Regions from separate parts of the Homo sapiens genome. Here all the other regions are reported to be linked to region 4. The links are microRNA targets in miRTarBase. Many come from high-throughput screens and were not tested one by one. Region 4 holds a microRNA gene; each other region holds the end of a gene's coding sequence. Distances are between the middles of the regions.

Evidence for each region. Region 4 holds the annotated microRNA hsa-miR-409-3p (GAAUGUUGCUCGGUGAACCCCU, at 2,798-2,819, shown strand). A microRNA usually pairs through its seed, bases 2 to 8, with sites in the 3' UTR of a target mRNA and lowers its output. Matches are read on the target gene's strand: a 7mer-m8 pairs with bases 2 to 8, a 7mer-A1 pairs with bases 2 to 7 and ends in A, and an 8mer does both.
Region 1: the mRNA of SLC26A7 is a reported target of hsa-miR-409-3p. Seed matches in the 3' UTR shown: 7mer-A1 at 2,343-2,349, 7mer-A1 at 3,406-3,412 and 7mer-A1 at 3,601-3,607.
Region 2: the mRNA of TMPO is a reported target of hsa-miR-409-3p. The part of its 3' UTR that is shown has no 7-base or 8-base seed match.
Region 3: the mRNA of ELF2 is a reported target of hsa-miR-409-3p. Seed matches in the 3' UTR shown: 7mer-m8 at 3,242-3,248.
Region 5: the mRNA of DCAF5 is a reported target of hsa-miR-409-3p. Seed matches in the 3' UTR shown: 7mer-m8 at 995-1,001 and 8mer at 2,680-2,687.
Region 6: the mRNA of ZNF207 is a reported target of hsa-miR-409-3p. Seed matches in the 3' UTR shown: 7mer-A1 at 1,082-1,088.

The regions. Positions count from the first base shown.
Region 1 is chr8:91,394,182-91,399,273 of GRCh38, forward strand. SLC26A7 (solute carrier family 26 member 7) reads left to right here. Exons shown (of 19, transcript NM_052832.4): 19 at 881-3,974. The coding sequence ends at 916. Among named protein-coding and RNA genes, the nearest start is that of SLC26A7, 150 kb to the left of the region's middle.
Region 2 is chr12:98,547,481-98,552,572 of GRCh38, forward strand. It overlaps TMPO (thymopoietin), which reads left to right. Exons shown (of 9, transcript NM_001032283.3): 9 at 93-2,871. The coding sequence ends at 378. Among named protein-coding and RNA genes, the nearest start is that of TMPO-AS1, 34 kb to the left of the region's middle.
Region 3 is chr4:139,054,700-139,059,791 of GRCh38, forward strand. ELF2 (E74 like ETS transcription factor 2) reads right to left here. Exons shown (of 10, transcript NM_001331036.3): 10 at 2,566-4,908. The coding sequence ends at 4,284. It also overlaps the pseudogene RNU6-531P. Among named protein-coding and RNA genes, the nearest start is that of NOCT, 41 kb to the left of the region's middle.
Region 4 is chr14:101,062,549-101,067,640 of GRCh38, forward strand. MIR409 (microRNA 409) reads left to right here and starts at 2,752; the gene lies at 2,752-2,830. MIR541 (microRNA 541) reads left to right here and starts at 1,947; the gene lies at 1,947-2,030. MIR412 (microRNA 412) reads left to right here and starts at 2,899; the gene lies at 2,899-2,989. It overlaps MIR369 (microRNA 369), which reads left to right and starts at 3,050; the gene lies at 3,050-3,119. It also overlaps MIR410 and MIR656.
Region 5 is chr14:69,049,702-69,054,701 of GRCh38, reverse strand. DCAF5 (DDB1 and CUL4 associated factor 5) reads left to right here. Exons shown (of 9, transcript NM_003861.3): 9 at 1-3,821. The coding sequence ends at 845. Among named protein-coding and RNA genes, the nearest start is that of ACTN1-DT, 73 kb to the right of the region's middle.
Region 6 is chr17:32,368,784-32,373,872 of GRCh38, forward strand. ZNF207 (zinc finger protein 207) reads left to right here. Exons shown (of 12, transcript NM_001098507.2): 11 at 512-671; 12 at 816-5,089. The coding sequence ends at 976. Among named protein-coding and RNA genes, the nearest start is that of ZNF207, 21 kb to the left of the region's middle.

The DNA of each region.
Region 1 (5,092 bases), not on the chromosome of region 4:
ATTACAGGTAAAAGAATGTTTCCATTCTTTTTTTAGGCCAGTTATAAACTGTTGTTTGATAACTTGGATCTTCCAACAATGCCACCGCTCTGAGGATTGGGTGGTTGCCTATCATTTGCAAACTGCTTACTTGTACAACAAATGCTTCTTCCAGGATCTACTGTCCTGGGGACTTGAATCCACCTTTCTCAAATATAAAAACTCTAAATATGGCCTTTTAAGTTTTTTCTGCTCTGATATCTTGCCTCTAAGCTTATATTGCCATCTTTGGAAATACTATTTGTAGAATCTAGTGCTCACATGATCTGAAGTGTCAAAGTTATTTTACAAATGCTGGGCTTATGGTTTAGTTTTACAACTGTTCTTAGAGCTTTAATTTCCTGCAATTTTTCCTTGAGTTTTGAATTGTTTTGCCTTTCCTCACCCCTAGAATAACATTTGGTGCCTCGCAGAGTCATCCCTATTGTATACAATCAGAACAGTATGTATTTACAAAATAATAATAACACTATTATTATTAAATCTAACATATATTGAGTGCCCTCATTATATTCCAGGAATATTCTAAAAGCTTTACTATGTTGTTTAACTGAATTTGCCATGACCTTATGAGGTAGATATGATAATTTAACCCATTTTTAGAAACAAGGAAACTGACCAGGGAAATTACACCATCTGTAAGTGGTAGAGCTGGTTGCAGAGTCAGCAGTTTGAGTTTGGACCTGGAGCTTTGAACTGCTCTACTCTGATGCCTCATAAAAGGTTCATTTTCTTTGGCTTAGCTGGACAGCTTGCTTCAGTTACTACTGTTCTTTTACTTTGGTACCAATTTAAGAGTTGAGTAAATAGCACATACTTACTTCTTCCTCTGGTATTTCAGAATTTGAGCAAACTCAGTGACCACAGTGAAGTCTGAGACCCTTTTGTCACAGTACAGCTCTTGTCTTTACCAACTGCCTGAAGAGGCCATATGCTGGCATTTTGCACAACTTTTTGGTTGTTTAGATCCTACAGATGACCTCTGCTACAATAAGTACGATGTGACTTAGTAACTGCATAGCAGTTGGAAAGAACTGCCAACTTTTTTTTCTCATTTTTGTTAGTAAGAAGATTCGCTTAGTTATTTTATGTAAAAATCAGTATGTGTTTAGTTTTAGTGTACTGAAGGGTAAACATGGTTTTATTTTATTTTACCATATTATTTTGTGTTGTTTTATTTCTATTGTGCTGTAAGTTGATGTTTAAAATTGAGAAATACTTTTGTCATAGGTAATTTGGAACATTTACAAGCCATTTGTAAAATTTTAAGATAATCTGTAACTAATACATAAAAACAACTTAGCAAATGTGCCATTTTCACACAACTTCTCTCTGTATAGGCCTCTGAAATATCAATAAGGCTAAATATTACTTTACACAGTAAGATGTGAAATTCACAAAAAGTAAACCAAACAAAACGAATGAAAAACTGGAAATAATTCGTTTCCATATCTTTCCATACATCCATTTCTGAAGTATTCAGGAATGTTTTCATAATCGAAAGAAACGGGTATCCAAATAAAACCAAGTTCTTGACATTGGTCTGTTTTGCTGTGAATATTGGAAATGCTTAGGATCTTCAGACCCAATAGCTCTAATTTTAACATTTCTACCCAATAAGAGGCTCTGTTTTCCACTGAAGCTTTGTTGGAGAAAGAGAATATGAAAATTACACATTTTATAATTTTTAGATGAGAAAATACCACTAGCAGAATAGCTTTGTGCTATTCCAGTATAAGATGAACTGTAATAATTTTTGACTTCCCTATTTCAGAGATAGTCAATATAATATGTTTATCTATATCCATATGGATGGATAGGTAGGTAGATCTTCATAGATTTTTTTTTCTTTTGTTAGAGGAGAGCTTGATGTGATTATCTTCAAACCCACCAAACCAACAGGATAATTGACAAATAAACGCCATAGGCTAGGCTGAACTGTATGTTACTGTTTTCATGCTTATACATATATTTTCAATCACATACAAGTACATAGAATTTCACATTTTAATTTAGCAAATTGATTTACCTAGGAAAAAATTATCACCTTCAAAGATAGGCATAGACACATAATTATGCTTAAGCTTTTAACAGCATTTTAACCGCTCTAAAAATTACCAGAGTAAGAAAAAGCTAGGTACTTTAAAGTGAGTTTGAGAAACAAGTTGAAACTAAAATTAAAATACCAGCCATTTAGGTGCTTTCTCTGGCATCTATAAAAGTAAATTCTAGTGCCTGCCAAGTGATGGATTATAATGGTCTCTAGCAAATGTGTGGTAAACATTCATATGGCCATTAATTTTAACATTAAATCGTAGGTAGGGCAATGTAGTAAAATGAAAGAGAATTAAGAAAGGTTTTGAATTCTTATAACATATCCAGCCATTTCAATTTTGATTGAAATGAACTACAAAGAATAGTGTTTGTCCCTATGGTAGCCTCAGTCTCTTTATCACTAACTTGGATTGAAATGAGTGAGGCCAACTCACATTCCCATCAAACACTCTTCCAAGGAAAAGCAGAAGTAATAATTGGAGGTAAAGTTTCCTTAGAGAAAATAATTTTATTCTGCTTTGTCCAATTAAATTATTCCAATGGCGGATGGTAATATTCACCATCTCTAATTCATTGGTCACTGGTAGGTAAGCATGAGTTAAGGAAAGTCAAAAATGAAAATATATTTTGCTGTGTATAAATTGATATTTTGCTATGCAACTCCTGTAATTGAATTTGTATAATGCAGGCACTTTCTAATTTATTAGAGATTATGGATCAGTTCTGACATTAAAATCATAGTTAATTGATGGATGGTTTTTATAGTTTGTTGATAAAGTGGACACAGTATTGTCTGAGCAGTTATATTTTAATGCATTTCAGTGTTTATAGTAGAAGTTTAGTGGATAAAACTTTAAGTCCAATAACTTGGGGGTCAAATGCTAATGTTTTATTCAATGTAAAGGAAGACCAAACCATGTACCTTATGAAGACCTTTGTTTTAAGACTTCCACACACCAAGGCTACAATGACTGTTAACCTGGAGGAAGTCTCTGGTATGGAGTTCTGAGAGCTTAAGAGCTAAACATGAGTTTAGACACACAAGATTCTAAAATGCAAATGTTTATTTTGAAGCAGGCATTGACAACACAAAAACTGTGTAGTGGTCTTGATGCTGGATTGTTTCTAGAGTCACAATGAATTATTTTTATGAGATTACCTTATTTTTATATATGACAAACTACTTCTATAATGCTTATTATGGTAAAATAAAATTGGAAAAAATTAAAACTGACCTATAAGAGTGTTAAGGACCTAATAGAGTGACATATATAAATTAAGCATAAAATATGTAACCAGGAAAAGACTGTTAACATTACATTTATGCAAATTAAATGCCCTTAAATTTCACCATTTGTCTTTCATTTTAAAGGTTATTTGCTCCCGATTATATGATTCAAGTGTTATAAGTTTTAGCTTGAACTACTTTGCAGTAATTTATTTGACAGATCTCTATTCTATAAATGTGTAATGTGATGAAGAAAGAGATCTTTCTTTTTTAATGAAAACATTAATGTGTTAATACCCTGTATGGATAATGCTTGACATTTAGTGGTTTCCAAAATATATTAGTATATTGTTGAACATACATTATGCCTTAGAAATGCACATTCTGTATTTTGTGGGATGATAATCTAATTCAGTATAGAATATGCTGTTTGGCAATGAGTTTGTGGCCAGATTTCAAATAGGGAGTTAAGTGGTACTTTCACAATCCAAAGATTTTTAGTTAAAAATCATGTAGTCTAATATGCTGCAGTTATTTTTTTATATTTTTCAATGCATTTAATTATCTTTTTTATAATTCTTTGTACTAACTCAGCATGTAACAACCAATTTACATGGAAATAAATCGAAATATGATAACTATTATGCTTAAATGGATTTGCGTCTATTATTTCATAGTATTTACTCTCCTGCAAAGCAAATAATACATACTGTTTCTTGGAATGACCGCAGAGTATTATGTGTTGAATATTCCTGGAAGTATCCATTATTCTTGGTAATTTGTTCTTACAAAATCTCAACCTAGGACTGTAAGATACTGTGCCTTAATTTATGGACTGCTGATAAGAATACTTTTTGCTACAAAACTACATTTAGACATACTCTTTTACCAGATTTACATCCTTTGCATTTCAATTTTAATTAATATATACATTTTAATTTTTTATTTGCTTTGGCTCTTCATTATATACTGTTGTTTGTCTTTCCTGACTTCCTAGGCTGAATTCAATATTCTTCAGTCTATTAAAGGCTACTTTTCCAAAGACAAGAAGCGAAGGAAGTCTTCTAGGTGTTAGAGATATGGCAGATAATAAAACAGAAAAAGAATAAAAGCCCTCACAAACTTTGTTCTAACAAGGGAAGACAAAATAGAATACGTTTAAAATGCATTTATTGTAAGTTAGATGATAATATGTGCCAAAATGAAAATACATTAAGGAAAGATGACAGGAAGTATGGCAGAGGATAAAGTGTTGCCTTCCTACATAGGGTGGCAGTAAGGTGATAAATGGTAGTGTCTTAGTTCTGGCTGCTATAACAGAATACCAGACTACAGCGCTTAAACAATCAAAAGTTAATTCTTAGTTCTGGAGTCTGAGGAGTCCAACTTGAAGGTGCTAGTCAATTTGGTTTCTGGTGGGGGCTCTCTTCTTGGGTTGTAGATGGCCACCTTCAAACTATGTCCTCATATGGGGGAGAGAGAAAGAGTGAGAGAGAGAGAGCACTCTTCTTATAAGGACACTAATCTTATTGGATCAGGACCCATTCTTATGATGTTTAACCTTAATTACCTTCTTATAGGTCCTGTGTTCAAATGCAGTCACTTTGAGGGTGAGGGATTAAATTTTGGGGAAACACAATTCAGTCCACAACATTCTAGCCTTCACCAAATTCATGTCCTTATCATATGCAAAATACTTTCATTACATCCTAAGAGCCCCAAAGGTCCTGACTCATTCCAGCATCCACCCACAAGTCTAAAGTTCAAAGT
Region 2 (5,092 bases), not on the chromosome of region 4:
GAATTAGGAGTGGCAATGACATTTTATGTTATTTCTCTAAATCATGCCTTTATCTAAAATTATTTTTCTTTTCCTCCTTTCACTCCCAACAGTGCTAGTTGCCGCAGACCAATCAAAGGGGCTGCAGGCCGGCCATTAGAACTCAGTGATTTCAGGATGGAGGAGTCTTTTTCATCTAAATATGTTCCTAAGTATGTTCCCTTGGCAGATGTCAAGTCAGAAAAGACAAAAAAGGGACGCTCCATTCCCGTATGGATAAAAATTTTGCTGTTTGTTGTTGTGGCAGTTTTTTTGTTTTTGGTCTATCAAGCTATGGAAACCAACCAAGTAAATCCCTTCTCTAATTTTCTTCATGTTGACCCTAGAAAATCCAACTGAATGGTATCTCTTTGGCACGTTCAACTTGGTCTCCTATTTTCAATAACTGTTGAAAAACATTTGTGTACACTTGTTGACTCCAAGAACTAAAAATAATGTGATTTCGCCTCAATAAATGTAGTATTTCATTGAAAAGCAAACAAAATATATATAAATGGACTTCATTAAAATGTTTTTGAACTTTGGACTAGTAGGAGATCACTTTGTGCCATATGAATAATCTTTTTTAGCTCTGGAACTTTTTGTAGGCTTTATTTTTTTAATGTGGGCATCTTATTTCATTTTTGAAAAAATGTATATGTTTTTTGTGTATTTGGGAAACGAAGGGTGAAACATGGTAGTATAATGTGAAGCTACACATTTAAATACTTAGAATTCTTACAGAAAAGATTTTAAGAATTATTCTCTGCTGAATAAAAACTGCAAATATGTGAAACATAATGAAATTCAGTAAGAGGAAAAGTAACTTGGTTGTACTTTTTGTAACTGCAACAAAGTTTGATGGTGTTTATGAGGAAAAGTACAGCAATAATCTCTTCTGTAACCTTTATTAATAGTAATGTTGTTGTAGCCCTATCATACTCACTTTTTAAGACACAGTATCATGAAAGTCCTATTTCAGTAAGACCCATTTACATACAGTAGATTTTTAGCAGAGATCTTTTAGTGTAACATACATATTTTAGAGAATTGTTGGCTAGCTGTACATGTTTTGAAAAGCTGTTTAGCTAGCTATAAGGCTATAATTGGAAATTTGTATTTTTTATTTACAGCAAAACATTTATTCAGTCATCCAGTTTGCTACCAAAATATGTTTTAGATAAGTGTGTGTATGTTTGTTTAGAAGTTAGAAATTGTAAACACTGGTCTTATGTTTCATTTGGATTCATTATTGCATTGTCTTGTTACCAGAAACAAATTTTGCCGAGCTTTTTTTGCCCTATATTTCCCAGCATAATTTGATTAGAAAGTACAAAAAGGGCCAGGCGCGGTGGCTTACGCCTGTAATCCCAGCACTTTGGGAGGCCAGGGCGGGTGGATCACGAGGTCAAGAGATCAAGACCATCCTGGCCAACATGGTGAAACCCCGTCTCTACTAAAAATACAAAAAAATTAGCTGGGCGTGATGATGTGCGCCTGTAGTCCTGTCTACTAGGGAGACTGAGGCAGGAGAATCGTTTGAACCCAGGAGGCAGAGGTTGCAGTGAGCAGAGATTACGTCACTGCACTGTAGCCTGGCGACAGAGCAAGACTCCATCTCAAAAAAAATAAAAAAGTACAAAAAGTACTTGCTTTTATATTACATCATAAGCAGTAGTTAATAAAGTTGTATACTCTTAAGAGGTGGGCATTATGATTATTTTTTATTTTTTTATTTTTTATGAGATGGAGTCTCACTCTTGTCACCCAGACTGTAGTGCAGTGGCACGATCTGGGCTCGATGCAACCTCTGCCTCCCAGGTTCAAGCAATTTTCCTGCCTCGGCAGAGACGGGGTTTCACCATGTTGGCCAGGCTGGTCTCGAACCCCTGACCTCAAGTGATCAGCCCACCTCAGCTTCCCAAAGTGCTGGGATTACAGGTGTGATCCACTGCACCCGGCCGGCATTATGATTTTGTGTACTCTTGAAATGGTTATCTTTGTGGATGATTTTTTTTTTTAAGCTGAAACTTACCTCATGAATAACTTGATTAAAGTAGTAGGTGATTAAAATTTCAATAGAATCAAATGAGACAAAAATTTTAAACTGACTCATTTGAGTTTCAACTTTACAGTCATTGACCATAAAGCACACTAAAAATGTAAGTTATTTTTAAATACATCTGAAATAAAAATACTTACTAAAAAGGAAGAAGCCGAAGATGTATATTTAGACCAGCACACAATTTTGATTTCAATTAGCCTTATTCTAATATTTAGCTTTTAGATCTTTCATACACATTTTCACGTACTTTGCAATTGAGACCAGAAAGACTTGTAGGTCTTTCTGCAGAATGAGTGGGTCCTTGCAAAGTGAGTGGGAAACTTACTCCTAGATCAGAAATGTTTGCCTCTCTGAGTAAAATGTTTCTTTCAGATGAGCCATAGAGGGGGCACCTTTTACTCAACTTTTCTTTGTTTTGAAACTTTGTTTCCCATACTGTTTTCAGCCTTTTGTTTATAATTAGAAATTGTGAGAAGCTTCATTTAGTGTTTAAAAATGTGGGGAGATAAATCAGACTTAACATGTATGTAAGATCAATTCACTTAAAAGTATGGTCCAAATAGCAAAAATAGGACCAGGTGAAACATGTAGTCATTTTTTAAAAACATGTACTTGGTCTTTTGTGTGTGTCTGTTTTATTCCATTAGAATAAATGTGTCCTTGATGTAAATGCAAAGCATTTCTTCCTGATTAAATTGTAGATGTAGACTTTACAATATAATTCAATAATAAAAAGTAATTAACCTCTAGTTTTGTCGTTGCAATAAATGGTTTTCAGATAGCACAAACTGTGATTTCTGGATAACATTTCTTATGTGATATTTATGGATTATTGTGTTTTATTTCAGTCTGTTCATATGTTTTACTTCTTATTGTAATCGGGTTCTCGTTTATTCAAAGGTAAGCAATGTGTAGCTACTGTACTCACAGAATGACATTAAGCGCTCCAAGGCACCTCTCCCACACCTAGTTCCTTTTTCCCACCACTTTTACTGTCTTTAGTATTTACCTATGACCCTTATGATTGTTAGTCTTGCTTTGAGACTAAGCCCGTGTCACTGTGATACGTCATGGAGCTGTGCTCACAAGATGAAAGTGCCATTATGTCTTCCTCATTCATGTGTCCCCAGAGGTGATTTGACTTAAATTAGTGTTTCTCAAGGTAGTATAGACACCATAATTAATTATAAGGCAAATCGCATCAAAGGCTTAAAACAACAAGTTTTATTGCATGCTTACCATGTGCTAGGTACTTTTCTATGTGCTTAATATGTATTGATTCACTCAATCCTCACGATAATCCTATGGAGTAGGCATTTTCGTAATATCATTACAAATGAGGAAACTGATGGTTAGAGGTGTTAGGAAGCTTCTTCATGTTTGCACACAGCTGAGAAGTGATGGCTCTGGTTGCATATAATATGGCAGAGGGAACCTAAAACAAACAATTCTCTGTTTACATGCTTTAAACCAGTTCTGTGTTCAGCCCTGCTCCTTTCACAACTTTGGTGGTGCCTTCTGAGTTTCAAACCTCTGAAGCGTTCTTTTGGGTAAAGTAGCTCACTCCTAGTTTTTCTTGTTTTTGTTTTTGTTTTCTTTGAGACAAGGTCTCACTTAATCTTTCTCTGTGGCTATTTAAATCTTCTGGCCAGGTATGGTGGCTCACACCTACAATTCTAGAACTTTGGGAGGCCGAGGCAGGCAGATCACCTGAGGTCAGGAGTTCAAGAGCAGCCTGGCCAACATGGCAAGACAATTTTTAGTCTCTACTAAAAATACAAAAATTAGCCAGGTGTGGTGGTGGGTGCCTGCAATCCCAGCTACTCGGTAGGCTGAGGCAGAAGAATGACCCGAACCTGGGAGGCAGAGGTAACACTCCAGCCTGGGTGACAGAGTGAGACTCCATTTCAAAACAACAACAGTAATAATAAATTTAAGCCTTATTTAATTTTGCTAATTTTTCTGTTTCTTAATCTTTTTTTTTTTTTTTTTTTTTTGACAGAGTCTTGCTCTGTCGCCCAGGCTGGAGTGCAGTGGCGCCATCTTGGCTCACTGCAACCTCTGCCTCCAGGGTTCAAGTGATTCTCCTGTCTCAGCTTCCCGAGTAGCTGGTACTACAGGTGCGCCGCCATGCCCAGCTAATTTTTGTATTTTTAGTAGAGACGGGGTTTCGCCATGTTGGGCAGGCTGGTCTTGAACTCCTGACCTCAAGTGATCCTCCCAAAGTGCTGGGATTACAGGCGTGAGCCACCACCCCTGGCCTAATTTGTTTTTGTTTGTTTTTTTTTTATCTTCCAGGCAGCTTTTTGAAGTATCTTTTGCTATCTCACTCTACCTCTTTGTCATTGTGTTAAACCCTTTTTTATTCCCTTATCAGTATTCAAGTCTCAGTAGAAATAGGCTGTAAGCATGTGGTCAGCCTGTCACCTTGAATTGATGGTCACTGAGAGCTTTTCGGGATTCACATATCCTTTCCACCAAAGATTTGGGGAGAAAGTAGAGGAGCAGACATAGGGTTTGAGTGCAAGGGGTCTCCATGTGTTTTGTTAAGTTCTCCTAATTATGGAATCATTAGTTGAATCGACAACATTTATACTATATTTACAGTGTTTTTAAATGGATTGAAATTTATTAGTTACCAAATTTTGCCACTTAATGCAACAGACATTTGATACTTTCTCTGTGGTGAATAACAATGTGTAGTTGACGGTGCTTGGGTGCAGTTTTAGAATTTTCTGTGAACTTGAGGCACTCTTTGGGGAAGTTGTTTTTTTTAAAAGCATCTGACGCTGGGTGTGGTAGCTCATGCCTGTAATCCCAGCACTTTGGGAAGCCGAGATGGGTGGGTCACCTGAGGTCAGGAGTTTCAAGACCAGCCTGGCCAACATGGCGAAACCTTGTCTACTAAAAGTACAAAATTAGCTGGGGGTAGTGGTGCACCCCTGCAGCCCCAGCTACTCAGGAGACTGAGGCGGGAGAATCGCTTGAACCTGGGAAGTGGAGGTTGCA
Region 3 (5,092 bases), not on the chromosome of region 4:
GTCCTGTTTATTCTCTATGAATAGTCCTTGACATCCGTTGCTGATTCTTTTTCTTCTCCCCCAACCTATCTTTATATACTTTACTCTTTCTACTCTTTAAGTTCTGAGCTAACTCACAGATCACTCCCCAACCTGAATGGTTTCCACACCTATTTCAGAAACTTTTATTTTGATGTCTGTCACCTCATATCTCAGTAAATAAAACTGAACTCCAATGTAGGTGAAGGAGGAACGAGTTGTCCAGAAAGAAGCCATCAATGGATGACTCATGAGGTATGAATGCCTAGAATATTTGGGAAAAAATGAAATATAGCCCAAGTAAGTCTAAAAGAGGAGTAGCAAGAGAATGAGGCTTGGGGAGACAGGAGGAGCCCAGATCAAAGGACTTTAATTGCTATGCTTAGGCATATCTTTTTAGCAAGAGATGCCATTGAAGAATCTGAAGCAATCACAAAGGTTCATGAGTGATGAAAGCTGCATTTAGAAAGCTCTCAACTGGTAGCCTGGAGAATGGATTAGAGAGAGACTTGGTGAGACAAAGACAGGGAGGATGGAAAAGAAAGTATTTAGAAGGTACTATGAGTAGAAATTTGGTTAATGATTAGAGGAGGTAAAGTATCTAGGATGGCCCCCAGGTTGCTTCTAGTATGAGTAATGGGTTGCTGGTATTATTTATTGGGCTAAGAGAAACAGATTTTGGAGGGAAGAGAGCTCAAATGGATACTCAGGAAGAAACAGCCAGTGGCAATTAGATAAACCCACCTAAGATACAGTAGTGCCTGCTTCAGCAGCACATATCCTAATACTGGAACGATACACAGATTAACACAGCCCCTGCACAAGGATGACACGCAATTTCATGAAGCATTCCAACAGAGAAAAAAAATGACAGCATAAAAGTCTAGGCTTTAACAATAGATTTGGTAGTAAAAACCATAGGCATGGGTGAGATTATCTAACAATTATGTTAGTGAAATAATAGTAAACGTCTAATAAGAGTGTTTTCTATGTGCCAGACACTAGTTACAAATCCTTAATATATTAACTCATTTAATCCTGACAACAATTCTATGAGGAAAAGAAGAAAGAAGCCCATAGGCAGAAAGAACAAAGAAAAAACAAGTTGGTTAGGCAGGAAGTAAACATGGGAAACCAAGTAAGTTTTGAGAAGTAGGCCATGAGATTAAGTGAACCAAAGTGTCCGTTTAATTTGACAGTTGGGTTACTGGAGATCTCATGGAGAACTGTTTCTAAGCAAGAATTCAGACTGCAGGCTATTTGAAGAAAAAGAAGGGACAGAAAGATAGGCTATTAATTGTTGGAGCAAGGAGACCAAGTAGGTGTGAAAGGGAGATGCTGGGCACAGGAGGAAGGGCACCTCCTTCCTGAGACAGGTGGTAAGGATGGATGTTGGAGTAACTAAATCATCTGTAACAAGGGGTCCAGGAATGGAGAGAATTCACAGCTCATGACCATGTTCTCTGTAGAGGTATACTGGTTATCTGGTGACAAGGGTGGTGAAGGCTGGAATTGATGCTGGAAAGTGGCCTAAAGAATAAATTGATAGACTACTGATCATAATTTAAAGATCTAGTGAGGCTGGAAAATGTAGTAGCATCAAGCCAAGGTTATGTGGGGTTTTTTCCCTCTAATACACTGGACACAAAAAAGCAACTATAAATTATATTGATTTATAGTTTGGAAGGGCTGAGATTAAAAGCCATAGCATTAAAAGGGCAGGAAGGATGGGGGTGAGGCACATCATTAATTTCAATCTGCAACATTCTGATCAGTATATACTGTCAACATGTATGTTTCCAAGTCTAGACTTTTTTTTTGAGACAGAATCTCGCTGTCACCCAGGCTGAAGGGAGTGCAGTGGCATCATCTTGGCTCACTGCAACCTCCACCTCCCAGATTCAAGAGATTCTTGTGCCTCAGACTCCTGAGGAGCTGGGATTACAAACATTGCACCACCACTCCCGGATAATTTTTGTATTTTTAGTAGAGACGGGGTTTCACCATGTTGGCCAGGCTGGTCTCAAACTCTTGGCCTCAAGCAATCCACCCACCTTGGCTCCCAAAGTTCTGGGATTACAGGCGTGAGCCACCGCACCTGGCTCCAAGTCTAGACTTTAGATGTGCTTATTCTCAAAGAGAAAAAAATTTCCAGTAGAGTAGCAGAGGTAGCTAGATAGCCCTGGTTTAACCCTGTTAGAACCGATTAAGAATCCAGCATAGAAGCAAAGTATTTAAGCATGTGACTTATATTCTCAGCAAATGTTCCCAAAATCAATAAATGTCTGACCTGAGTGTCTAATATGCTCAGCACTTGGGGAGAGGGGTAGGTATGGCATAAAATATAATCGTTGCTCTAAATGAGTATTATGGAAGACATGACAAACAAATGAAGTCACAGTGCAATAAACAAGATAATACAATTAAGTGCCAAAGCACTTAATATTGATTTTCAAAGCTGAAATATTTTGGAAATGTTTTAAAAGGAGACAGAATTTGAGAGTAACTCCCAAATGGGAAAATAATCAAGTGAGTTTTTCTTTGAGCTTTTGTATAAAAGTATCATCAATATATTTATGGAAAAGTTTAAAAGATTACAAAGGGAACTGTTATAAACAATTTCTGACCTAAGTAGTATGTGATCAATTAAAAGACAAAAAATATTATGTATGAGTTCATCTACATTTCTAAAACATGTAAAAATAGATAACTTTTCTTTGTAGTAGAAAGAGCATTAAGATATGGAGTGACAGACAGTAGTAAAATTACATAGTTTATGTAATCCTTCAGATACCTTAACTTCCTAATCTGTAAAAGGGCTAGAAGAGTAATTGTTCTTTTTAATCCACAAAAGGTCTGATTGTGAAACAAATGGTTTAAAGTGTTTTACAAATATAAATTCTTTAAGTGCAGCCAACTAAAATACTAAATTCATTACGTTAAGCAGAACATTATAGTTCATCATAATTAGAAAGAAACTGGCAACATGCAGATATTTGCCAAATATTAATATAATGGAAGTAGAATTTCTTCATGCAGTAGTTGGGAAGGAGAAGAGAGATGTTTTATCACTTCCTAACTAAAACACTTCTATACTGACTTTTAAATATTGTTTAAAATATCACCAGAGACCAAAACAGAAGATAAATTTCATTTCTATATTTCAGAAAACCTACTTGAATACACTTTGAAACAAGAGTACAACAAAATAGAATATACTTCAAATGTTGAATATACAAACTATTATAGTTCAAAACTGAACACTGGTATTTCCCTCATAAACTTCAACTAAAAAAAAGAAAAAAAAACAAAGAAAACTCCAGGTATTAGAGCTACCTGCCAAAAATTCATGCTGAGCCTGAACTTCCAAGTGACAGCAGAACTGAAAATGGTATGTCTGCACAAATGCCAAGGCTAAGTGAGTGACACAGGCATGTTACAGCAAAAGGCCAGAGCCAACTGTTAATTTGTCCACAATTAAGAAACTGACAGACTTAAACTACCATATAAAATGTTACATGTATATTCTATAACAATACTGTGCTAGGTACAAGATTTTTAAAATTTTTCTTTTAATAAAAAAGCTTTACACAAACAAGCCATTAGCTTATTTCAAGAAAGAAAATCGAAAATTAGTCTAAGGCCTTTGTTTTAAATCAGCTTAAGCTATATGATATATATATATGTATGTATATATATATATATATATATATAAAATCGCACTAGATCTTTTTTTGCTATCCTCTTTCTGAAGTTTTTGGGATCCATTCTTCAATTCACATTCTAAAATACCTATATTAGCAGAGTCTTCACATAGCACCAGTTAAGTGAGAACTGTGCGAACACAGTAATAATTGCTGGTATGCATATAAAATGCATCAAAAATTGCTATATGTAACAATGAGATTACCCATCCCAACCCCTCCCACTGAAAACTATATAACCTCTTACAGAATGTTAGTGTTCCAAGTCTTAGTGTAACTTGATATCGTAGTGAGCTGCTTGGTCCCTTTCGATCCTTTTTCTTATTGATGGGTTCAGTTGTTTCCTACTGTAAGAGGCAGTTTTCTGTCAGCATCTCAATATGTAGTTCATTTCCCACTGAAACATGGGATAGGTAATTTATTTCCAGTAAGTCTGATTGTTTTTGTATATGCATTAAAAATGTTTTAAAGTCTTCTTTGACTTTTCTTGATGACTTCCCTTGCAAATGTTTATGTCAGTACTGCCACTAACAGCCTGAAGTCCATGGTGGAGCTGCTATTTTATTTCTCACATGTCACTAGTCCTTCTGTTTTCATAGTTACAGGAAGGGCAATAGCTGAAGGCGCACTGACAACCACTACGTGGGTCACTGTCTTATTTCCATCTGCTGGTTTTTCTTCTACTAGCTGCAAAGTTTTCACATCATGTTCTTGCTTTTTTGCCACTGCTTCCGATTTAACCTCTGGCCCCTTTATGACTGCACTGATAACTCGAGGAGGAGTCTGGCCAGATGCCTGCTGAGTAGGCATTGATAGTCTCATTACAGGTGTACCATGGGCTATTGAAACAGGGGTAAGTGCTCTCACAGCCAATGGGGTTCCAACAATGTTAATGCTTCCTGATCCAGTCAGATTTGACTTTGTCTGCAGTTGACACTGTGCAAGCTGTGTAGCTGGGATGGTAATAATTTTGGCAGGCTGCATGGTGATTTTGTCTCCATTTTCAGTAGAAGCTGGCATCACAGTAGGGATTGTCTGAATGACTACCTTTGGAGAGGTCGCTGTTGTTGGACTAGTGCTGGTTATTAATGGTGCACCTGCATTAACTGACTGAACTGCCACAGTTGAAATTTTCTGACCCAATGATGTCATTACAACAGGTACCTGCATTGCCACACGAACTGTCCTAGTACATTAGAAAGAAAAAAGCTGATTATATTTAATGCCAACTGAGAAAATAGGTCTCCTGAGTAAAAGATTAATACAAATCCAAAATGTGTAAAATTAGTGCTCCCAAATTTTACAGAGGTACTGGCAATCCCTGATGTTTGACACAAACATACCATGATATATTTTAAAAACTAAAGCCT
Region 4 (5,092 bases):
TTGTCTCTATCTTTCTCTTTCTATCCCCCAACCAAACATTGTTCCCAATTTTCTCCTGGGTTATGAAACAAATAGAGGCTATCAGTATCTCATCCCATTTGTATTAAATAATACTGATAAAAATAATCAACACAAAATAAAACTAAAAACAGCTGAAACGGCACAGTGCTAAATGTGTTCAGTTGACTACAAATTGGCAGAGGAATCCAATTTTCTTGACAACATTTCAGCTGTGACATTTGACCTGGGGAAATAGCAAGCTGCCGACGTGGCAGCCATGGAAGGAAATTCACGGTGGCGGCGGTGATAAACAGTGATATTTGATGTAGACAAGAACACATTGAGGAATCAAATCTTCATGCAGATTTTTAAATGGAAAAAATTGATCCTAATGAAAATGATTTGGGGAAAATAACAAGGGAAATAAGAGAAATGAAAACAGCTCAACAGCGCGGTCAGGAAAGCTAAACAGGGAATTGGATTAGTATAATGGCATTGGCTCTGAAAAACACGTTTCTATGAATATCAGTGTTGGTACAATTCTTGTGAAGGTGGTTACATTTGTGCGTGTTTACAGTGGAGTTGGTGGGGTCAGTAGGAACCTAGGGTCAAAAAATGGGATACAGTCTCCCCCTTTATGCAGTTGATCTTTTCTTGCTGCCCCAAACCTTCCCGAGAGCTTCCCGGAAAGGTGTGCTGACTTCAGGCGTGACACACTGGTAAGGCGTCCTCCCGGGGATCTGGGTGCATGTTGTCCCCAGAGCATTCATACGTAAGTGACAGGCATCACCTGGTCTCCCTCCATCCCCACGGAGGGTTCTGGGTGAGACGCTGACTCCGGAGGGAAGCAGAAGTTCTACGGTCAGTGGGGTCTGGTCTTTCAGGACAGTTGCTTCTGTGAACTCAGAAAATCTGAGACAGCTCTTAGTTAATTTAGAAAGTTTATTTTGACAAGGTTGAGGATACACCCGTAACACAGCTTCAGGAAGTACTGTGGTCAAGGCACAGCTTGGCTTTATACATTTTAGGGAGACATGAGACATCATTCAGCACATGTAAGAAGTACATTGGTTTTGTCTGCAAAGGTGGGACAACTTGAAGCGAAGGCAGGAAGGAGGGAGCTTCCAGGTCACAGACAGGTGATACACAAATGATTACATTCTTTCGCGTTTCTCATGAGCCTTTCCAAAGGAGGCAAATCAGATACGCATCTGTCTCAGTGAGCAGAGGGATGACTTTGAATGGAATGAGAGGCAGGTTTATCCTGAGCAGCTTCCAGCTTGAGTTTTCCTTAGTGATTTTAGGGGCCCGAGATAACTTTCCTTTCACACTTCCAAGGCTATTGATGAACACACAGGCATCCAGGAACATTCTGGGGTTCAGTCCTTCCTCAGACTCTGCTGTTGATACCTTACATGGTTCCATGCTGGCCCCAAGGACGTGCCCTTCGTTGGTGCCGAATGTCATTTGGTCATAGAGGCTGAAAGTCATTCTGGAGTTGATGTTTCCAAGGTCAAAAACCTTGCTGGGGCTGTGGAAAGAGCTCGTTGTTTGCTGGCCTGCTTTGTTGGTGACCAGCATTGCACATGGCTTTCTTTTCAGATCAAACCCTACCTGGAGAATTTCCAGAAGCAACAGCACCCTCAGGAGGCGGCCTGCAGCCGGAGCCCTCTCCAGGGCAGGTGCCTGAGGGCCGCCCATGGGACAGGCCCGATTGTACCCACGGTGCATGTCATCTGTTCCACTCCTGCTGACTCCGGTGCGTTCCGGGACCACCTTGGGAGGTGATGCCTGCCCCAGGAAGGAGGCTCTGATGCAGGTCAGTGCCCATGGCTCCTGAAGGGAAGTCGTCTGTGACATCTTTTCTTTCTTTACAGCAGGCCTCGCATGGCTGGCCTCTTGCTCCACTTGTAGCAAGGCGCAGAGGGCTCTCTGAGCTCATGCCAACGTCAGGGAAAGGATTCTGCTGTCGGTCCCACTCCAAAGTTCACAGAATGGGTGGTGGGCACAGAATCTGGACTCTGCTTGTGGCATCCATCGTCTGGCCCGATGCTTGCTGGCTGCCCGCTCCAGGAGGCACCTTCTGGGTGTTCTCTGAGTCTGGGGAAGGTTGGGTTCTGAGGTCAGGGCTGCCCTGACCCTTGTGAAGAGAAGACATCTGTGACTCACCTGCTTTCTTCTGCTGCATTTATCCCCCCAGTCCCTTATTTTGAATGTCTCACTTGCTTTATGAGGCTAATCAGATGGTCAGCCAGCTGTTGATAACTGTGAAGTTACTCTTTGAGGGATCCTGGGGTGATGCCTCTGTGGGCTGGAGATGGTGCTGGTGAGACCGCAGGTCTGGGGTCAGCGTTGTGCCCCGTTGAGCTCCCGCCAAAGGAATCCTCTGCTGGGAGGGAGGCTCTGTGCTTGTGCAGGGGTCCCTACAGGGTCACCCCCTCTCAGGGTCTGGGAATGAAAAGCGGGTGCGAGCAGGGTTTCATTTTCATCTTTAGCAAGGTGCCCAAGGAAGGTTGCCGTCTTTTCAGTATAAGATCCTACCTGGGTCTTGCACTCAACTTCTGGGAAGAGTCTCTAGATTCATTCTGGAAGGGGTTGGAATCGTTGGACTTGGTGATTGGGAACGTCCTTGGAGAGTGTGAGGCTCTGGGCTCTGAATGCCCAGACCTTGTGCTGCCCTTGGGGGAGGGTCTTCTGCAAGCACAGCCGCCTGCAAGCATTCACCTTAGTCCGAGCATCTGAGCCTCTCCATGGTACTCGGGGAGAGGTTACCCGAGCAACTTTGCATCTGGACGACGAATGTTGCTCGGTGAACCCCTTTTCGGTATCAAATTCCACCAGGGAGGCCGTCTTGGAGGCTGGGGCACCTCGGGGAAGGACGCCGGCATCAGCACCATTCTGGGGTACGGGGATGGATGGTCGACCAGTTGGAAAGTAATTGTTTCTAATGTACTTCACCTGGTCCACTAGCCGTCCGTATCCGCTGCAGCCTGTGGGGCCTGCGGGCCGGGGAGCCGATCGCGCTTCAGCTCAGCGCCTTTCCTGGTACTTGAAGGGAGATCGACCGTGTTATATTCGCTTTATTGACTTCGAATAATACATGGTTGATCTTTTCTCAGTATCAAATCTCACCTTGGAGGACCCGTTGGAGATGAAGCCCTTTTGAGGGTAGGAGCAGGACGGGTGCTTTGGAGTCGCTGCCTCAGTGGGGCCTGGTCACCGAGAGTGGGCCGGGCAGGGGTCTCTTTCCTGTCTCTGTGTCTTCTCACCTTTGATGTCCCATCCGTCCTCAGGACTGCTTCCCGGGGGCAGCGCTGGCACCACGGGACGCGGCAGCCACGTTCTTGAGCCGATGGCACTCTGGGTACCTGAGAAGAGGTTGTCTGTGATGAGTTCGCTTTTATTAATGACGAATATAACACAGATGGCCTGTTTTCAGTACCGCTACCGCCCGGTGGTGTGCGGGCGCCACGCCTGAGGCGGGACTTTCCAGGGTACGTGAATGCATGGGCTGGTGTGACATTTGTCATCCTTTCCCCTGACCCCCGCCATTGAATCATTTTGGGAGAGCTTTCGGGGGGCCATGTGGACTTTGGGGAAGATGCTAGGGTTGTGCACTGTGGTGGGGGGCGGTCATGAAGCTGATGAGCAATGGTGACGGGGCTCAGTCTGTTTTTCATGGCCAGTGTCATCGAGGCAGAGGACACGGGGGAGCTAGTCCCGCTGGAAGGCATCCTGCTGGAAGGCCACCCACCCCTCGCCAGGATGTTGGGGGCGGCTGCATGCATTCCCTGCACCTGGGCTGCCTTCTGCTCATCTCAGTGCTGTGAGACCCTGGGTGGGAGCTGGTGCCTTGGGTGGCCGTGTGCGTGTGCTGCTCCTTGTGGTGCCTGAGGAGAGGTGGCCTGTGTTGCATTCACAGAAATCATGACACACAAGACACGAGCGGCCTCTCTTCAGTATCAGATCCCACCTGCATGATTCCTGCACCTGCTGATGTCGGGGAGGTCCGGTTGCGCGCCCTGTGGGCCCCCAGAGGCATGGCTGGTGGCCGAGCACGCGCTTGACTTCCACCTGCAGCCCTGTGCTGGCCTCCATCCTGGAGGCGGGTGGGTGGCAGGGCCCTTCCCTGTGGAAGAAGCCTCCTCCCTGGAGTCAGTGCTGCTCAGTGGTACCTGAAATAGGTTGCCTGTGAGGTGTTCACTTTCTATATGATGAATATTATACAGTCAACCTCTTTCCGATATCGAATCCCACCTTGGATGCCTTCCTCTTTGCTGTCAACTCCAGGCAGCAGCTGGCTCTGCGCTGGTTGACCCTGTGGACTTTGTGTAGGACCTGTGTCACTTGGCCTGTTAATTTTCCAGCTCCACTCTGTTCTGGGGGGCTTTGGAAGTGTGACAGAATGGCATCCCCAATTCCAGTGTCAGCGGGAGCACCCGCCATGCCCTTGCTTCCGGTTGGCACATCCCCCAGGCTGGGCTGGCTCTCAGCTACCCGATGCTTATGTCATATTTGCACCCCTGGCCTGCCCAGACTACAGGAAGATGACCAGAGGCCTGTTTGCAGCTGACCTGGAGACTTAGTGACTCCAGAACATGCTGCCCATGCCCAGGGTCCAGGGCTGAAGGCAAGGAGCACCTCAGGAGTGACCCCAAAGAATGAGCTAAGGCTGTCCTTTATCACTCATTGTTGATCAGTGAGCTCCTGGGCTCGGGAGATCTTCCTGAGCTGGGCTCCCGTCATCCCCTAGTTGAGACGTCGCTGCCTTGGAAGTCACAGCCTGTGCCTGCCCTCCCCCTTGTCCTCCTCCTCGGGACCGCTCCTCTCCATGCCTAGCATGGGAGTGGGGATCCCTGGCACCATCCCTCTGGGCTGCCTGCTCCCACTCTCCCTCAGCACCCCTCTTCCCCAGCCCCTGGGCCACAGCCCTGCTGGAGAGGCCGCCCCACAGGCTAGGTCCCTCCAGCCTGTGGCACTTGGGTCTCCCTCCAGTGCCCCTCCCTCTGCCAGGGAGAGCATTTCCAAGTGCAGAGTCCAGCTGTTTAACTCCGCTGCCCAGGGCACCTCTGCAGGCCCCTTCCCTTGGGCT
Region 5 (5,000 bases), 32 Mb from region 4:
AAGCTTACAAGTGGCTCCGCTACTCTTATATCTCCTACTCAAATAACAAAGATGGAGAGACCTCCTTGGTGACCGGGGAGGCAGATGAAGGGAGAGCAGGAACCAGCCACAAAGACAACCCAGCCCCTTCTTCCAGTAAGGAAGCCTGTCTAAACATAGCAATGGCCCAGAGGAACCAGGACCTGCCACCTGAAGGCTGCAGCAAGGACACTTTTAAAGAAGAGACTCCTAGAACTCCCAGCAATGGCCCAGGCCATGAGCACAGCAGCCATGCTTGGGCAGAGGTGCCAGAGGGTACCTCTCAGGACACTGGCAATAGCGGCTCTGTAGAGCACCCTTTTGAAACCAAGAAGCTCAATGGAAAGGCCCTGAGCAGTCGGGCTGAGGAGCCGCCTTCTCCTCCTGTCCCCAAGGCATCTGGCTCCACTCTCAACAGCGGGTCTGGCAACTGTCCCAGGACCCAGTCTGATGACAGTGAGGAGAGGAGCCTCGAAACCATCTGTGCCAACCACAACAATGGACGCTTACACCCTCGTCCCCCTCACCCTCACAATAACGGGCAGAACTTGGGGGAGCTGGAGGTGGTGGCCTACTCTTCCCCAGGACACTCAGACACTGACCGTGATAACTCGTCCCTGACAGGGACACTCCTACACAAAGATTGTTGCGGGTCTGAAATGGCCTGTGAGACCCCCAATGCTGGAACAAGAGAGGACCCCACTGACACCCCAGCCACAGATAGTAGCAGGGCTGTTCATGGCCACAGTGGCCTCAAAAGGCAACGAATTGAATTGGAAGATACAGATTCAGAGAATTCCTCCTCAGAGAAGAAATTAAAAACATGATAAATACAAAGGGAAAACAAAAAGCTACAAAAGTAGCCTTACAAAAAAAAAAAAATTGTTTAGTGAATACAGAGGAAAGGAAAAACAAGTATTAAAGGCACATGAAACCAGGGCCTGAAATTTTGTGTCTGATGCTGCTCCCTTCTATCCAACATTCAACAACGGGTCTGAATGTCTAGCTGGCCATTGGCTTGTGCTGTGTTAAGAAAGGGGAAAAAAAAATAACCCAAGTGACTCCTTTCTAGTGAGACGTGAGCGTAGTGTGCCGCGCAAGGCTCTGTGGAAGTAAATCTTTGTTGAGACGTTCGACTTGTTCTTGTGTACGCACAATGGCACGTGTGCGCTTATTGTCTCATAAGACCTTCCTTTTAGTTCTCCATCAGAAAGGACCTATGAATTTGTACTTTTTGCCATCTCACCCTGTTTACATGCCATAGGTGTTCTGGTCTGGATGATGGGTGCCTGTTAAATCAGGTTGTGCTGCCAGTGAGTTGTAGATTTATGCTGGAAGAATGGAGAATGGAAACAGGCCTTCAGCCCATTGGCTGCGCTGGAGAGGAAAGCATGGTTCCTTTCTTAAAGAAATCTTCCATGTTTTCTCTAAGTAACACTTCTTTATTGAGCATTTAATGTGGACATACTATAAAAAAGAATTTTTAATGCTAATGAGAGGTTTAGCACTTAAGATCAGATTCAAGAGAATATAGATTCCTGATAAATTTCACTGTTTGCAAATTGAGCAGTGCTGCAACATGTACTGTATGAAGGCCATAAAATAGAGCTAGTCATGGATAACAGACTTTAACCAGTTAGGTGCTAGATCCTAAGAGGCACTCACAAGGCCAGCAGGTGCTTCCTTGGCTCCCATGATCGATCGAGGCATAGTGAAAGAAGGGCAAAGACAGCTTTCCAGAGCTTTGTGCTCAGGCTACTAAAGTAGTTGTTATAGGTGTGTTAACGAAGAAGCTTAGTGAGGAGCAGAATGTGGTACTATATTCATTTAACTCAACCCAGAACCATTGGTCAGAATTGGTGGGACTGGCATCTTCCCTCAGACTTGCAGTTGATAGAGGCTGTGGTGTTCTCACTAGACTTTGCAGAGCAGTAGGCATCTCAAGGTAACAGATTCTTATTGAGTAGGTCTATTAGGAGTCAGAAGGTGTTGGGGAGGAGTCTCTGGCTTATGACTCCTGGTTCCCATTAGTCTTAAGTCTTCTGGTTCCCATAAAAGACTCAGTTTTATTGAGGTAGATACAGGTTTAGAAGAGAAAAGAGCAACAGATTTTCAGCGTTGCAGTCACTCGGTTATCTATGAAGGGTTGTGCAAAACAGGAAGGTCTGGGAATGACCAGATATCTTGTTGGCATAAATGTTATGAAAAGGCAGAATACTGGCAAGAAATGAGGAAGAGAGAGAAAAACAATATAACTTTCTTGAGTGCAAAGGTGCTAGACAACTAGGAGCCCAGCTGGGATTGGTGTAGGGAGGGCCGAACGCTGACTAGTGTGGCCTCACTGCCCCAGGCTTCCTTTCAGAGGAAGGCCTGTCCTGCTGGAACTGGAGCCAAGGGGAGGCTGCCTATGAAGGCAGAAGATGTGGATGAATTCAGGCACTGGGGGTGGGGGGGTTATTTATAAACACAAGGTGGTTGGTTTAAGCCAAAAGGAGATACCATCCTGATAAGCTCTGTGAAAGAGAAGATGTGCCTGGTGTGTGTAATGCGGCTGGGGTATGAAAACACTGAGAAGGAGATGAAGGAGTGTGTGTAGCATGGGGGTGTGTACAACTTAACACCTGGACTTTTACTGGGGGAGTGGGAAAGTGATTCTGTAACCAACATTAGAATTACTTTGGATTTGTAATCAGATTGGTTCTATGATTTGTCTTTGACTATTCACAGATAATTGTAAATGCTGGTTTTATAAGCCCAAGTCATTTTACATTTGCTTTTCCAAAATGTATTAAATTGGAATTTTTTAATCCTTTATATACAAAAAAAATACGATCACTCAGTGTGTGTTTCTCTTCCCCTTCTTAGTCAGCACACCCAGTCCTTTATTTTATTCTATTCTATTTATTTTATTTTAATAAGTACTTAGCCTCTTCTGACTTCTCAAAGGACAATCGGATACATATCTTCCTGAAAAGAAGTAGTTAAAGTTCCCTTGGGAACTAGCTACTTGGTAGTTACAATTCCCAAATGCAGAACTTGGTCTTTTCATGTTAAAAGCCTTAATCTCATTTGGGTACTCAAAAGAGAAATCAGAGTTTATTCTGGTTAACTTGAGAAGCCAAGAAAGATCATTTTTAGCAAGTATGCCTTCCATCCTTGGCAGAGGCTTCCCAGCATCCTAGGCTCAGCTTACCGGGTGATAGGCCCCATAAGACACACACATGAGCAGGGTGAGAAATGCTTGCTTTATAGCTGCTCCACCCTCATCTCCAGAGATTTTGTGTCTATGGTTGTGGGTCTGGAAACCTGGCAGGAACCACTTCTAGAGTACCTTTGCCTAAACTCTTTTAGAATTGAGGCCCCAACTTTGATGGCACATTTAATACCCAATTTCTTCCATAATAGATATTTTTAATAGCAGGACAGATGGCACTGATTAGATCAAGAACTATTTGGAAGTGCCTCTTATGTTTTTTTCCTGCATTCTGTACATAAAGTTTTAAGTGGCAGGTCCAGATATGTAAAATCATTTCTCTCTATTTTCCAGCTGGTTTTGTTAATGATTCTCTAGGACAGCAGGTAAATGAGTTAAGTTGTTGGCTTGGGGCAAGTGAAGTTTGTGACTATGCTTGATTTAATAAGCTGAGAGTCTCTTGTTTGTCTGTCAAGGTGCCTTCCTCTGCTGAAGCCTTACCTCCTTCTCACCCAGTAACGGTTAACTCTTCTCTTGTGTATATGCAAATAAACCTATTATTCACTTCTCACGTCTTCCTCTTCTCTTCCAGGGAAGACTTGGTTGCTTAGACACCTCTCCTTTATTTCTTTTCTGTTTTAATTCTTGCCTAGTTGGAAACTTGATTGAAAGCTATGCTGAAAACTAGAAGAAAAACTGCAGTGTTCCACATCCATGACAATGGTCATTGTCACTTTTAGGTATTGGGACAAAGGTCACATCTGGACAACAAAATGCAGGGTAGGAGGAGGTATTTATTTGTTCTCCTTAACAGGTTTAAAGGGACTTAAGATAGCGAGACTCTGGAACTGATAATTTTATTAGTTGGAACAGAGGGAACAATGCAGTGAAGTGACATTACAAACAGCTCCCAAAGAAATATTTTCTGATGTTTCCAAATACCAAATTGCATTTCCTGCCTTGCTCCAGGCATGCACTGCAAACTTTTTTCTAAAAAAAAAAAAAGCAAAACTCGTATCTCCTGCCTGTAAAGCTGCCTGCTACAGTTAACTGAAAAATTCTTGCCAACCAAGGCTTGTCAGGAAAACAGACGCTTCCAAAGGAAGACTGTCCTTCCCCCATGACCTAAGCAAGACAACATGCCATGATTGAAACACCAAGGTGAAGTAAGGCTCAGTGAGTCCCAGCCTTGCAGCAGCAGGATAGTGGTTTTGAACAAACTGTGTGGTTCTCAGGTGGGATATTCCGATCTGAGTGCTAATTTGTCCTTGAGCACTCATATTGGAATTAAATTACATGAATTCAAATAGTTAAAAGTAATTTTGAATTTCTCAGTGATGCTTCTCACATGCAATAGTGCACGTGGATCGAAAACCTGTCTGAATCCTAACTGCATTTCATTGTTAGAACAGTGGTGGTAAGATGCTTCTCAGAATGGAGGCTTAGAGGCAAAGCTTAAACTTCCCTGTGCCCTGCACTTAACATTGCCTGGATAAGCAAGAGGAGTTACTCTGTTCAATTCACAACAGGATTTACTCGAATGTGCAGATGATCTAGCAGTGCTTATCTGCAAGATGGTCACGTTGTAAGGAAACAGGATATCTAATGTTTCAAAATACTGAAGTTGGGAAATGACTCCTTTGGGCTTATGGCCCAAAGCCATGAGCTTGTGGAATATTCCAGCCAAAGTACAGAATGCTAGCTTAGAAGTCTATCTGCCTTTGTTAGTTCCCCTACTAAAGCTGGGAAAGACAATAAAGCCCCTAAGATATCCAGGGGCTCACCCAGA
Region 6 (5,089 bases), not on the chromosome of region 4:
CACCTGAGGGTCGGGAGTTCGAGACCAGCCTGACCATTGTGGAGAAACCCCATCTCTCCTAAAAATACAGAATTAGCCGGGCGTGGCGGTGCATGCCTGTAATCCCAGCTACTCCGGAGGCTGAGGCAGGAGAATTTCTTGAACCCGGGAGGCGGAGGTTGTGGTGAGCTGAGACCAGGCCATTGCACTCCAGCCTGGACAATGAGTGAAACCCCGTCTCAAAAAAAAAAAGAATGTTAATAACAATACTTCATTAGATAGTTTCTTGTTGAAGCAATTTGTAATTCCCGGAAAGTTGTTAGCCATGCTTCAAGTTTACAAATAGGTGAAGTTTTAAGGTATCTAGAGTTTAAGTAGTTGGATTGGTTTGTCTGGCAAAAGTAAATAGTTGGGATGTAAGGGTAAATTTTTGAAAATTACTCTTAACGTTGTAAGATTTTAGATGCATGCCTTTATGCTTGGTGAGCCTCTGCATTCGAGTATTTAGCCCTGCGCTTATTTTTATTCCCAGGAAGAGAGAAGGGCACAGTTACCTAAGTATCAACGTAATCTTCCTCGGCCAGGACAGGCCCCCATCGGTAATCCACCAGTTGGACCAATTGGAGGTATGATGCCACCACAGCCAGGCATCCCACAGCAACAAGGAATGAGACCCCCAATGCCACCTCATGGTATTCCTCTTTTTATGTTTTTCATATTTAGTGGATTTTCTAAGTTCACGCATAAAATATTAAATTTATCTGCAGCATACGTTGCACTTAAAAGTACAATGCGTTAACAATCTATTTTTTTGTGTTTGAAATTCTTGATTTTAGGTCAGTATGGTGGTCATCATCAAGGCATGCCAGGATACCTTCCTGGTGCTATGCCCCCGTATGGGCAGGGACCGCCAATGGTGCCCCCTTACCAGGGTGGGCCTCCTCGACCTCCGATGGGAATGAGACCTCCTGTAATGTCGCAAGGTGGCCGTTACTGATCTTACTTCATCCAGTCTAATAGGTTTGGAGATTAAACCTTTTCTCAACTTGTGCTGTTTATATAGCCAAGCTTCCGTCAATAAGGCTTCATTGTGACTTTAACAAACATTATCTTCCCACATACCAGGAACTATTGGACATTTATTTTACATGGGAAAAATTATTTGGAATAATAAAGCAGGAACTTTTCCTGAAGTTGCAATTTATACTGTATGGCTTCTTTTTCATGTTTCATCTAGGTTTTTAGAAGTGAAGTATAGTAAATTTGGTTCGTTAAATTGTGAAGGCGCTGGAATTACATGAACATACCACCCTAGTAAAGGCAAGTTCTGTAAGCTTACATTGCTATTTGTAAAGTTTGCCTTCACAGCATTTCAGATGCTGTTGGACTTCATGTCCCCAACCTAGCTTGGTGAGGGCTGTAACTGTTTCCAAGTACTTGTACATTGGAAGTCTGAATGTGTAACAATATTTAATGTATTTAGAGTTCCTCATGTTGCAGGGTTTAAGAAATCTGACCCACCAAGGTCATGTGACTTTTCTGTACTGTTAAACTTCATTGTAATAAAATGAGAGAAAAATTTATGCCTTTTTATTCATAACCCAGCTGTGGACCACTGCCTGAAAGGTTTGTACAGATGCATGCCACAGTAGATGTCCACATAATAAAATTCATAGTTACCAATGCAGTTTTGATATATCATTGGATTCTGTCTTTGAGTTGTAGGTTATTTCTTAGCTGCATGTTTTAAACTGAATTTGCATAGAGTTGTATGTTAATGTTTCAGTTAAGAGAAAAACTTAAGATACATGAGTCATTACATAATGGGTATGAAATCTTTATAATCACCCTTCCACCCTCTATGGTGTCAGTACACATCACGTGTCATAGATACTTAAAATGTAAATGTTAACACTTTTCCTTCCTGCTGAGATGTTTAGAGCCTAGTGCCAGACCCATTCATTTCCTTTTGATTATTTTTGAGACTCAGTACTGCATGGACCTCAGAAGCTTTTCAGGTGCAAACTTCTAGAAGCTTAGGTGCATGCAGTAATAGCTTCTTGTGCTGTTAATGGGTTATTATATATTATTCTAAGTGTAATGCTGAGAATCTAAATGTGTCTCTGTTGGGATGGTTAACAGATGAATTGGCAATTTTTATTATGTTCCTGGAAGATTACATTATTCATTTGAGTACCTTCTGTTATTAAGCCTAGGTAGCCTTACTGTGCAACTTTTTATTTATCCTTGGAAATTTTGAATGTTGTGTTCTTACAGAGAGCTTTTCTGTAGAGATGACTGCTATTCAATATTTTGTGTTGCAACCTCTTAAAATAATAGCTCTTGTTGACCTTTTTGGGATCTGTTTTTCTGATCTTTTGCAGGGTAGTTTTATGATTTTTTAGGCATCAAATAACCTATGCAAAGTATTAATATAATGAACTCAAGTTGAGTTTTTCTCATTATAAAGTTAAGACTTCTAAGAAAATGGTAACATTTCTTTATAACTTTCCTGTGAAGGTATAGATAAAACACATGAAGTCTGAAGTTGTATGGAAAAAAGGGCTTTAACTTTGAAGGAAAATATATTGAAAAGTGATTTAGCCATCACAAAAGAGTTCGTATTTATGTGACAGATGAAAGTCATACCTTTAAGCAAAACATTGCAAGTATTATAAAGCTGAATGCTATTTTAACTCACATTGGCTGGGTGCAGTGGCTCACGCCTGTAATCCCAGCCCTCTGGAAGGCTGAGATGGGAGGATTGCTTGAGTCCAGGAGTTTGAGACCAGCCTGGCCAACATGGCAAAACCCCATCTGTACAAAACATTTAAAAATTAGCCAGGCGCGTTAGTGTGTGTCTGTGGTCCCAGCTGCTCAAGAGGCTGAGGAAGGAGGTTCTTCCTCCTTCCGAGGCTGCGGTGAGCTATGTTCACTCCAGCCTGGGCAACAGAGCGAGACTCTGTCAAAAAATAAATTAAAATATCTGATTATCTGGCTTCAATGATTTTGGCTCCTGTGCTTGTGGTACCATAGTGGTACAAAAATTTTCATAGTTTGAAAATAAAACAGGTATTTTGCCAGTAATGTATTTCTTTCTGCCAGCAGCCAAGTCCCAAACCACTTTCCCCTCTGAACCTCTGCTTACCTAAATGGTTTCAAAATTAATACATGCTGCTTTGATTTGGCAGCACACTTAATATACTGCTGAAGGAAAACTTGTGTTGAAAGTCTTTAAGATAAAAATGGTGTGATAGGCCGGGCGCAGTGGCTCACGCCTGTAATCCCAGCACTTTGGGAGGCCCAGGCGGGTGGATCATGAGGTCAGGAGATGGAGACCATCCTGGCTAACACGGTGAAACCCCGTTTCTACTAAAAATACAAAAAATTAGCTGGGCGTAGTTGCGGATGCCTGTAGTCCCAACTACTCTGGAGACCGAGGCAGGAGAATGGCGTGAACCCGGGAGGCATAGCTTGCAGTGAGCGGAGATCACACCACTGCACTCTAGCCTGGACGACAGATTGAGACTCCGTCTCAAAAAAAAAAAATGCTGTGATTAAATTTAGAATAATTAAGTAAGGGGTGCTCTCCCAAATTCTCAGGAATTTCATGTATACGGTTATTGACAAACTGCAATAGGGTTAGTAGACCTGTTTCAGAAATTATGTGAAGCTTTATTTGCATTTTATGCAAAGAAGGTTGATACTTTGTAGCAAGGTTTTTTGCTCTCTGTATAGGTCTGATGGGCAAAAATGGAACTTTTAAATATGGGATAGAATTCTAATTAAAAATTAATTGAAAGTGTTAGGCATTGGCAGATAAAACTTAAGCTCATGAGTTCCTGAGTTTGTAGCTATAGGCTCAGAGGTGGTGTACCCATTTAATATATTTGAAGTGTAATTTTTGCATGCATCCAAACGTAATTAAGCTTCTAGAAAATACCTTTTTTCTAAATGCTTCTGGGGTCCATAGTGTGGTTGAATTATGAGTGGAGCAAATTATATTCATATAATTAACTCTGACTCAACCTTCCTTAAGTAGTAGATGAAGTTGAGTCAAAGTGGATGCCAACTGCCCTCACAGAAGACAACTTTTGGGACTTGATAATTCAGGCAGGCATTGTGATTGTCATAATTAAGGAAGCTGTAAGGTTAGTAGGGCTGGCAACTTTGGCTCTACCTTACATCCACCCCTTTTAGAAAAACAAGAAAACATTTTGTCTGGCACTAGTTTCTGTTGTATAAGTTTTCATACTGTTTAACAAGACCACAGCAGGTAAGGATTAATTTTTGAGTGGCTGCTGGAATTACTTGATTTGAATACTTAGTATTTTAGTAGTGTCTCACACATTTGCCATTAGGTATGAATAAAATATTCCTACTGTACTCCTATTCCACTAAGTTACATTTTGAACTTAGACTCACCTTAATTAAACTTAATTAATTGGGGAGGGGGATTCCCCAACAAAAAGAAGTACGGGCTCAGAGTGGAATTGTAGTGGACAATAGTTAAAAACAAAGCTGCTCCTTTTGCTTGCTTGATCATTGGGATTTTTAAAAAAAAAAATTTTAATGCATGTCTTTTAAATTAATTGGGAACTGTTTTTCTAAAATTAAAATTTTCTTCTTCCTATAGCCCTGCCATAGGACAGGCTGAGGCTGAGTCTCAGTGTTGCCCTGTTCAGTCTGAGGCAAGTGGGATTTATTTTATTCCTTATAGGGGCTTTCACAGCTTTATGGCTGTTGGATATTTATGTCCCCAAACTTGCAGCAAGTTTGGTGAAGGCCCCTAAATTTAATTAAACTTAGGATTTTTATACTCTTTTGGCAGAGAAGGCTCTATATTAATATTCACGTTTGACTGTGGTGTTAATAAACATAAGTATTTCATATGCAATTTTATGTAATTTGCTGTGTGTTACATAATTAACAGCTTCAGTAAAGCTTGTGTTCCTATATTGAACTTCAATAAATTGACAAAATTTGATATTTTTGATTGGAGGCAAGAAATGTTTCATTCAAGTTTTTTACTTTCACTTCTAGGAAAATCTTACTGGTTTTATTTTCTCCATAAACTATTAAATTTAACCTCAAGGATAAGTTTAATCAT